Homo sapiens: one gene and its partner. The protein of the gene in region 2 purifies or fractionates together with the protein of the main gene of each other region. This does not show direct contact. Each region holds a gene or a part of one and is shown on either strand. Other genes may lie near its edges. The genes, in order: AKR1B1 and PMP2.

Region 1 (3,820 bases), on a different chromosome or scaffold from region 2:
CCAGTAAGCTCTGCAAATAAAAATAAAAGACAAAATACTGTGCAGGACCCAGATGTCTTCCATGGCTTTGAGCAGAGAGGAGCGATAAGATAAACTGAACTTAGGAAAAGCTGATATATTAGTATTCAGGAAATGTGCATGTTGGGCTAGATAATATATGGAACGATGGAAACAGTCCTTCCTTTCCAGAACCTCCCAGGGAAATGATACATTTTATTTCATTTCAAAAAACACTACTGAGCACTTCTATTGTGATAAGTTGCAGTGAGGAATATAATTATGGGTAAGATGTGTCTTTGCCTCTATTTTATGAAGCAAACAAAGGGCAGAGGTATTTCTACAACTGTAATACAAATAACTAATCACACACTGTATAAGACACTCAACAGCACAGGAAGGGCAGAGGTATTCCAAAGGGATTCCAGCCGGGAAACTGAACAACCACAGCCGAAGAGGAGATGGTATTTGACATGGCCTAAGAAGTATAAGATTTTGACAGAGAGGGCAAGAAAGGTATACTGGGAGAAGAGAACCACCTGCATGAAGGCAGCAGACGGTACAGAACTCAGCTGGCATGGAGGCTGGGAGGGAGGGAGGCAGGCAGGCACCACTGGGTGAGACCCACAAGAGGCTGACACACACTCCCAGAGCCGAAGGGCTCTTAGCTTCAGATGATCACAGAATGTGCAGAAAGAGAGTCTGCTACAGGCTCTGTGGTTATGATCACAGAAAAATGTGCAAAAGCTATACAGTAAGATGCAAAAATAAAATAATTAGGTTAGCATTTTGAGATTAGTCATTTATTTTTTCTTTCCTAATTCCTTAAAAAATGAAATACGAAACAAACGATGCATCTCTGGTGGGATATGCCTTTCCCTCAGTGGCCACTGTTTTGCCATTTTATCTTGTGTACTTAGAACATCTACCTGCACGTAAGAAGAAAAACGTCTCCTCTCCTAAACAATGAGCTCCACTTCCCTCTTCAGGGATCACTCTCATCCCTGTCTCATATGTGACAGGTGGCAGGCACTATGGCCACAGTCTTTGGGCAGTGGAATTGGGCAAAATCAGCTGCTCACCTAAGCTGGGGCCTGCCCAAGAGCCCCAGGCCCATGGCTGTGCTGCGCTCGGCACAGATCTTGGATAAAGACAGAGCATCCCTGGCAGAGCCACTTTGCTCAGTGAGAACAGAGGCTCTTGGGCCATCAGGACTCCCCTGAGCTGCTCTCCTTTGGGCGTGCCCCCCCCCTCCCCCACACCCCCGCCACCAATGCTGCAAGGGCAGGCAGGGAGGGAGGTGGCGCCAAGTAGCCTGAGCTGCTCCAGCTGCCACACTGAGCGCTTCGCCAGAGTCCTGACACAGGTCTAGGCTCTGCCCATCATCACACGAACTCCTTGCAGAGCTGGTGAATGGACTAAATGGCCCAGAGGGTCCTTTGCAGTCCCTGGACTTATCAGCACAGCAACATTTCTCGATCACTTACTAAGGTATTAAGCACCATGTGAAGTGCTCTGATGCATCACTTAATCTTCGTAACAACCCTCAAAATGGATATTATTTTATAGATAGGGAAGCTGAGGCATCGAGCAGTTAAGCGACTTGCCCAGGGTTATGCAGCTGGTAGCTGACAGAGCTCCAGTGCAGGGCAGGTCCAGGCAGTGAAGCTCAAGAGCGAGATTCTCCCCGGGTAACCTCTCGGTGTGGCTGAAGGGCCTGAGCAAAGGTGTAGGTGTATGCGTGCACAGCACGGGGCCCTGGAGGCCCAAGGCCTGCCCCTGCACACGGCTCCACTGGTGAGGTGTCAGTCTCAGTCTTGGCTTGCTCGCCACAGCTCCCTGGCCTCAGAAGAGAGGATGGTGGTGATCCCACAGATGACACTCCAGAGACAGGATGAGAGGCCTCCCCCATCCCCCACTCCATGGAGGAGGGCCAGGCCTGACCAGCCAAGATCTTACCTTAAAGTTCTCAGCAATGCGTTCTGGTGTCACAGACTTGGGGATCACCACCAAGTTCCTCTGCATGGGGAACCGGATCAGGACCTGTGAGCCCAAGGAGACAGTGAGTGTGTATACATGCCAGGCACTCGCACCCATCATCTCAGTCTCTCACACACACAACCTGCAGAAGGACGTGCTAGAACTCCACAGGTGATCAGAGAGGGGCTCCAAGATGTCAGGTCACAGCTAGCAACAGGTAGGCGACGCATTCAGGTCCAGATCTGACTCCAGAGTCCTGCGCTAGCCACTGTGCCACACGCTTCAGTGTCTCAGGCATATCATGAGACCACATGAGGCCCTCCACTGGCTAGAAATGCACACTACCACTCAGGAGAAAGAACATTCCCTGCACGGCTAAGAGCTCTTACATTTGTACAGATGAGGTTCCACATGAATGAACAAGCGCTGGCCCTCGTGGCAGTCACCCTTGCAGTAGTGGGGGCAGGCACTATTAATCTAAGAGCCCATGCCAGAGTCTTCTAAAACCCCGATCTGTGCCCTTTCCACTCTGTACTTGAGGACCCCTAACCATACTTCCTGTGAGGGTGTAACAGGCTCAGTCACTTCCTCCTCTTGGCTAACAGGACTGTCAGGAATGCAGGCAGTTGTGGACGGTCAGCAACACCTGAAGTGGCTGTACCTGGGCTGTAGTTTTATTGTGCTTGGCTGCGATCGCCTTGATCCTGGGATCCTCCAGGAGAGAAGGGTCCTCGGGCTTGGCCCTGAGGATAGAAAGACAGTCCAGGTCACACCATCATGGCCACCACTCACAGCAGCCAGAAACCCCAACCCTAATCCTCCCATCGACCTCAGAGGGCAGCCACCAGTCTCCTCCTCAGAGCTGGGTTAAGAACCCCCAACCCTTTGGAAAAAGAGTAGGTGTCTTGCTACTAGAAACTCCAACCCTTCCAGGAAAACCAGCAAGAGGCTCAGGGGAAGTTTTGCAGATCACCCCCAGAAACATCTTCCTTGAGGCTGAATTGTTCTTTTTAGTCTTTTCTAATCTTCACCAAGTGACACAGGAGCATGAGCCTGTGGGAAGCTCACCAGGGCCTGTCAGGAGAGCCGAGGGGGCTGTAGGCGGTCACCACGATGCCTTTGGACTGGCAGTACTGGATTAACTTCTCCTGAGTGAGATATGGGTGGCACTCAATCTGCAAATGCAAAAACAAGAGCTGATGGGAGCACTGTGGCTACACGCTGATGGGACACAGATGAAGCTTCCTATGCTAAAGTCCCTCCCTACCCCATACAGAAAACTATGTATAACAAACACCCTATTTCCCAGATAAGCTGTAACTTCCTACAGTTCCCAGGTAGTATCCTTGGTGTTATTATTATCTTATTATAGATGTTCTCATGGGCCCTAGAGGCTTTTCTTGGCTTTAGCCACTTATCAACTATCACAGTTCTGAGGATCTCATGGCTGCCTCTTTGTCAGACCCCAAATCGTCACAAGCCAGGCTCAAACTCTTTCTTTCCTGTAAGTTTCCTCTCCCAGATGTGCTGTGTCATGCTGAATCATAACTCAGGACTCTGCCAACACCCAGGAGCTGCCTCCTGGCCACTTGCTGGGTGAGGTGGACGAGAAATCCCTACCAGCATCAGACAGTAAAACAGCAACGTTGCAATGCCAGTGTCGTTGGGGGATGTTTACCTGGTTAACTGCAGGCTTATACTTCAAGCCAGGTTTGTTTAAGATCATCTCCACCTGGAGATGGTTGAAGTTGGAGATGCCAATAGCTTTCACCAGCCCTTCATCCACCAGCTCTTCCATGGCCTACAGAGAAAAGTGTCTGTGTGGTGCAGAAACGAACCCAGA
Region 2 (3,920 bases):
TACTACTAAGCATCTCCTCCCATGTTTCACTCCTAATGGAAATACATGCCCAGGACTCAAACATTTTAGGTTTTGTTGTTGCAAAAGTAAAGTCTGCAGATTTTCTTTTTTTTTTTTCTTTTTCTTTTCTTTTTGAGACGGAGTCTCGCTCTGTCGTCCTGGTTGGAGTGCAATGGAGCAATCTCGGCTCACTGCAAGCTCCGCCTCCCAGGTTCACTCCATTCTCCTGCCTCAGCCTCCCGAGTAGCTGGGACTACAGGGGCCGCCACCACGCCTGGCTAATTTTTTGTATTTTTAGTAGAGACGGGGTTTCACCGTGTTAGCCAGGATGGTCTCGATCTCCTGACCTCGTGATCTGCCCTCCTCGGCCTTCCAAAGTGCTGGGATTACAGGCGTGAGCCACCGCGCCCGGCCAATGTCTGCAGATTTTCAAGAGTAAAAGTTTCCAGCTGAAATAGCTACTGCAAGTCATCCATTTTTATCACATCCAATCCTATTCCCCATTGAAAATTACTAATTATAGATTTGCATAAATCATTCTAGAGATTTTAGTTTGTATGTACAAATACTATAGATATATTTTAAAGATGAGACTATAGCATATACGTATTGTTCTATGATATTTTCCCTCAATACCATATTATGGATATAGAGAAGTATTCCCCTCATATTTTTGATAGAATTTCACTTCTGAAATTTTGTGGCTTCTATATCTAGCTGGTAGGAAAAAAACTATCCATCTAACTTTGAGATCTATACTATTATAAATGATCATAGAGAAATAAAATATTTTTTAAAAAACTCTTCTACATTTCAAAAATGAAACAAAATTAGACTCTTAAGTTTATTACCATTATTACCAAGACTATAAAATATATGGAAAAGGGAAAATGTAAAATAAAAAATATATGAAAGAAAAACTAATTTTCCAGGAAGTCTCAATGGTTGAATAACTTTTTCCAGTTAAAAAGATCTCAAACTTTTACATACTGAATAAGAAGTTAAGAGTTACAGCCAATAAACTATAAACTATATTCTTTCTTCAAATTCTGATTAATCTTTTGTTATTTTATACAGTTTAGGACAATGTTTCTCAAGTTAAATCATAATCTCTGGGTCAGAGCCTGAGAATTTATATTTACCAAATCCCAAGGTGTTATTTTGCATGCTAAACTGGAAAACAGTGGAATTAGAAAATCCTTCACTGAGACTTTCTTTTATTTGGCTTCTTCCTCAGCTGTAAAGTGAAGTCTTTAAATCTAACCGATCTCACAGTATGAATTGATCCCCATAAGTTCTCTTACTGTTCCAGGCAACAATGACATGACTTTGCTCATTTTATCTAAAATAGAACATTTTATACAGGCTTTCTGAACAGTTAAGTAAAGCTGTAGGCACTTTGACAAGCACAGCAAACTCGGGTCACTGGCATCACTCTTTATTGTATTTATATAGTTCTGAAAATTCCCAAAGACTCTTCATATCTATTGTGTTTATATCGATGGGACATACTCTAGAAATAGTATAAAATAAAGTTGTTGTAACTAATGACTCGGTTTTCCATCTTCACTCACTGCTCCAACTCCAGAAACGTCTGATGTTAGCGAAATTGAGTTTGAATTCACTGCCATAACTCCAGTTCTTTTTCTCTCAGTAACTTCCCTAGACTATGAACACAGTATTTTAGGAAGTATTTTTGTTTTTCAAACTCTCTGTATCTACATGATTGTGTAATAAAGGACAACCTAGAGGTAGAGAGAAAAAACTGTTAGTTTAGCTAAAACTTAAATTTTTAAATTGAGATTTTCTAGGATTTGCAATATATTCAATTCCTTATTTTATGAACACTTCAGTTGCTATGAACGTAGCTCTCAGAAAAGCCAGAAAATGGGTTGACCATGCTTTTAAGCTTTCTCTCCTCTGGACCTGCAACCAAAATTCTCTTGGTATGAAATTGCCCTTGAAATCAGTGGGCATTCCATGCATTTAAGCAGCTCTCTCATTTAAGTTAATTCTATTAAAAATTACCACAAATAAAATTCAAATAAATTATCTGAATGACACAACAAAAGATTAATCCTAAAAGAGGATTGTACTGCAGCCTTGCAAAACTCCCCAGTATCCTGTTAAAAGTAGTAGATGAAAATGTCATGTAGCTTTCTTAAAAAGGAGCTTTTCAGCAGAACAACAAAAAGCATTTCTTACCCAGAGCTTTCATGTAATCGTCAAAGTTCTCACTAGAGACAAGTTTCCAGGTGCCCAGGAATTTGTTGCTCATCGTGATGGGTGAGAGCTCAACACAGTTCTAAGTGGGATTCAGAAGACTCAGATAAAATGCTGAGGCCTCAGAAGATTCTTTTCAAGGATGCCCAAAGCGTGTGACTCTTACAGAGACCCAATGGGGAAAGGCAGTGTCGGGACTAAGCAATGAATGGCTCTTCAATGGCCAGCTGCCCGCCCAATAGGATAAAAGAAAACCCCACATAATACTTCCCTTTGTCTCCAAAAAAATTTATAAAATGAATGAGATTACTATTTGAATCTTCAAAAATTTTTTGATCAATCTTACATTTATAAGAAGGCTTAGGCCCTTCATGCTTTGGAAAAGACTGCATGAATTCTGTGATCATGAATGAATGTGTGTGTGTTTAGGCATGTCGGTCACTCTCAATCCTGAGTCTGCACAATTAAGAATTCTTATTGAAAGGGAAGAAAAAGAGGAAAATGTCTGTAAGTATTATGATAACAGTCTCAAATATGTTGTGGGAGAGAAACGTAGGGGAGCAGTGTGAGGAAGTATTCATAGGTAAGAAGGCTTGGCATAGTTCACATATCCCAGGCAGGCAGAGTAGGCAGACAAAGAAGTCAGTCTATTGCAGCAGAGCACAGAAATTGTATTCATGTGATGAAACAAGAAGTAGCACTATAACATGTTCTTTGAGCACAACAAAGATTTTCAGCTAGAAATACTTAAAGTCTGAACTAAGCAGGTTCCTGGATACTATAACTATTTGTGTTTAAGTCATTTAAAATGAATCTACAATTTTATAAAGAGGATTTTCTATAGAAAGAGTACTAATTTATATTGACAACTCACTATGGGCCAGACACTGTGCTAAGTGCTTAATACGGGTGATCTCATTTAATTATATCACTAATTCCAAGAGTTAGGAACTATTATTATATCCATTTTACCAATGATAAAAATGAGCTTGGGGACATTAGGTAAATTGCTCCCAAAAGTTGAATAAGGAGAGGACAGGTTTGAACCCAGCATTGCTGCCAGTGCCCGGGTTCTGAACCATGATCTTACCCTGCTTCTATTATACTATACCATACATGCTACGTGCACGGAGGCCCTGGCCAGAGATCACCTGATGCTGATAGCACCACGATTAGCTAGAAACACTCTCTCTCTTCTCAAAAATCAAGAGAGGTAAAAAATCAAAAGATCCAGCCTACTATATTACATCAAAGCCCCAGTCTTTGGCCAAGGGGAACAAACGTAAATCCACTTAGAACATAAGTGTTGCTCTTGAGAATCTCTGATTACTGCTATATCTTTCCTAGCAGGTTTTTTGTTTGTTTGTTTTTGTTGTTGTTTGTTTGTTGTTTGTTTTTACCTTAGCATTAATTCTGGCTGGAGACAACTGATATTACCAAGTTTTATACATTTAGTAAACAGGTTGGCACTGTTTACAACAACAAAAATATGATGAATTTGCTCATAACAGGTAGAATTACTAGCAAGAAGGGCTCAAGAAACCCAGTCGCATAGCTGTGACATAACTATTGCAGTTACATAGTTAGAGTTCAAGCTGAGTAAAACACGTGAAATCATATACAGTGGGCTGAAGTTTCATTTACAATCCCAGTGCCTGAATAGCTCAAGGTGGGAAAGAAATGGTGAATAGGAAAAT

Evidence for each region.
Region 1: the proteins of PMP2 (region 2) and AKR1B1 fractionate together in Homo sapiens (co-fractionation; one large-scale study listed by BioGRID). This does not show direct contact.

What each region holds. Positions count from the first base shown.
Region 1 is NC_000007.14:134,445,342-134,449,161, forward strand, and holds part of AKR1B1 (aldo-keto reductase family 1 member B1), read right to left. Parts: intron 3,779-3,820; coding exon 3,656-3,778; intron 3,153-3,655; coding exon 3,046-3,152; intron 2,721-3,045; coding exon 2,639-2,720; exon of another isoform or gene 2,041-2,638; coding exon 1,957-2,040; intron 1-1,956. UniProt on the Homo sapiens protein: Catalyzes the NADPH-dependent reduction of a wide variety of carbonyl-containing compounds to their corresponding alcohols.
Region 2 is NC_000008.11:81,445,109-81,449,028, forward strand, and holds the start of PMP2 (myelin P2 protein), read right to left. Parts: upstream 2,332-3,920; 5' UTR 2,279-2,331; coding exon 2,206-2,278; intron 1-2,205.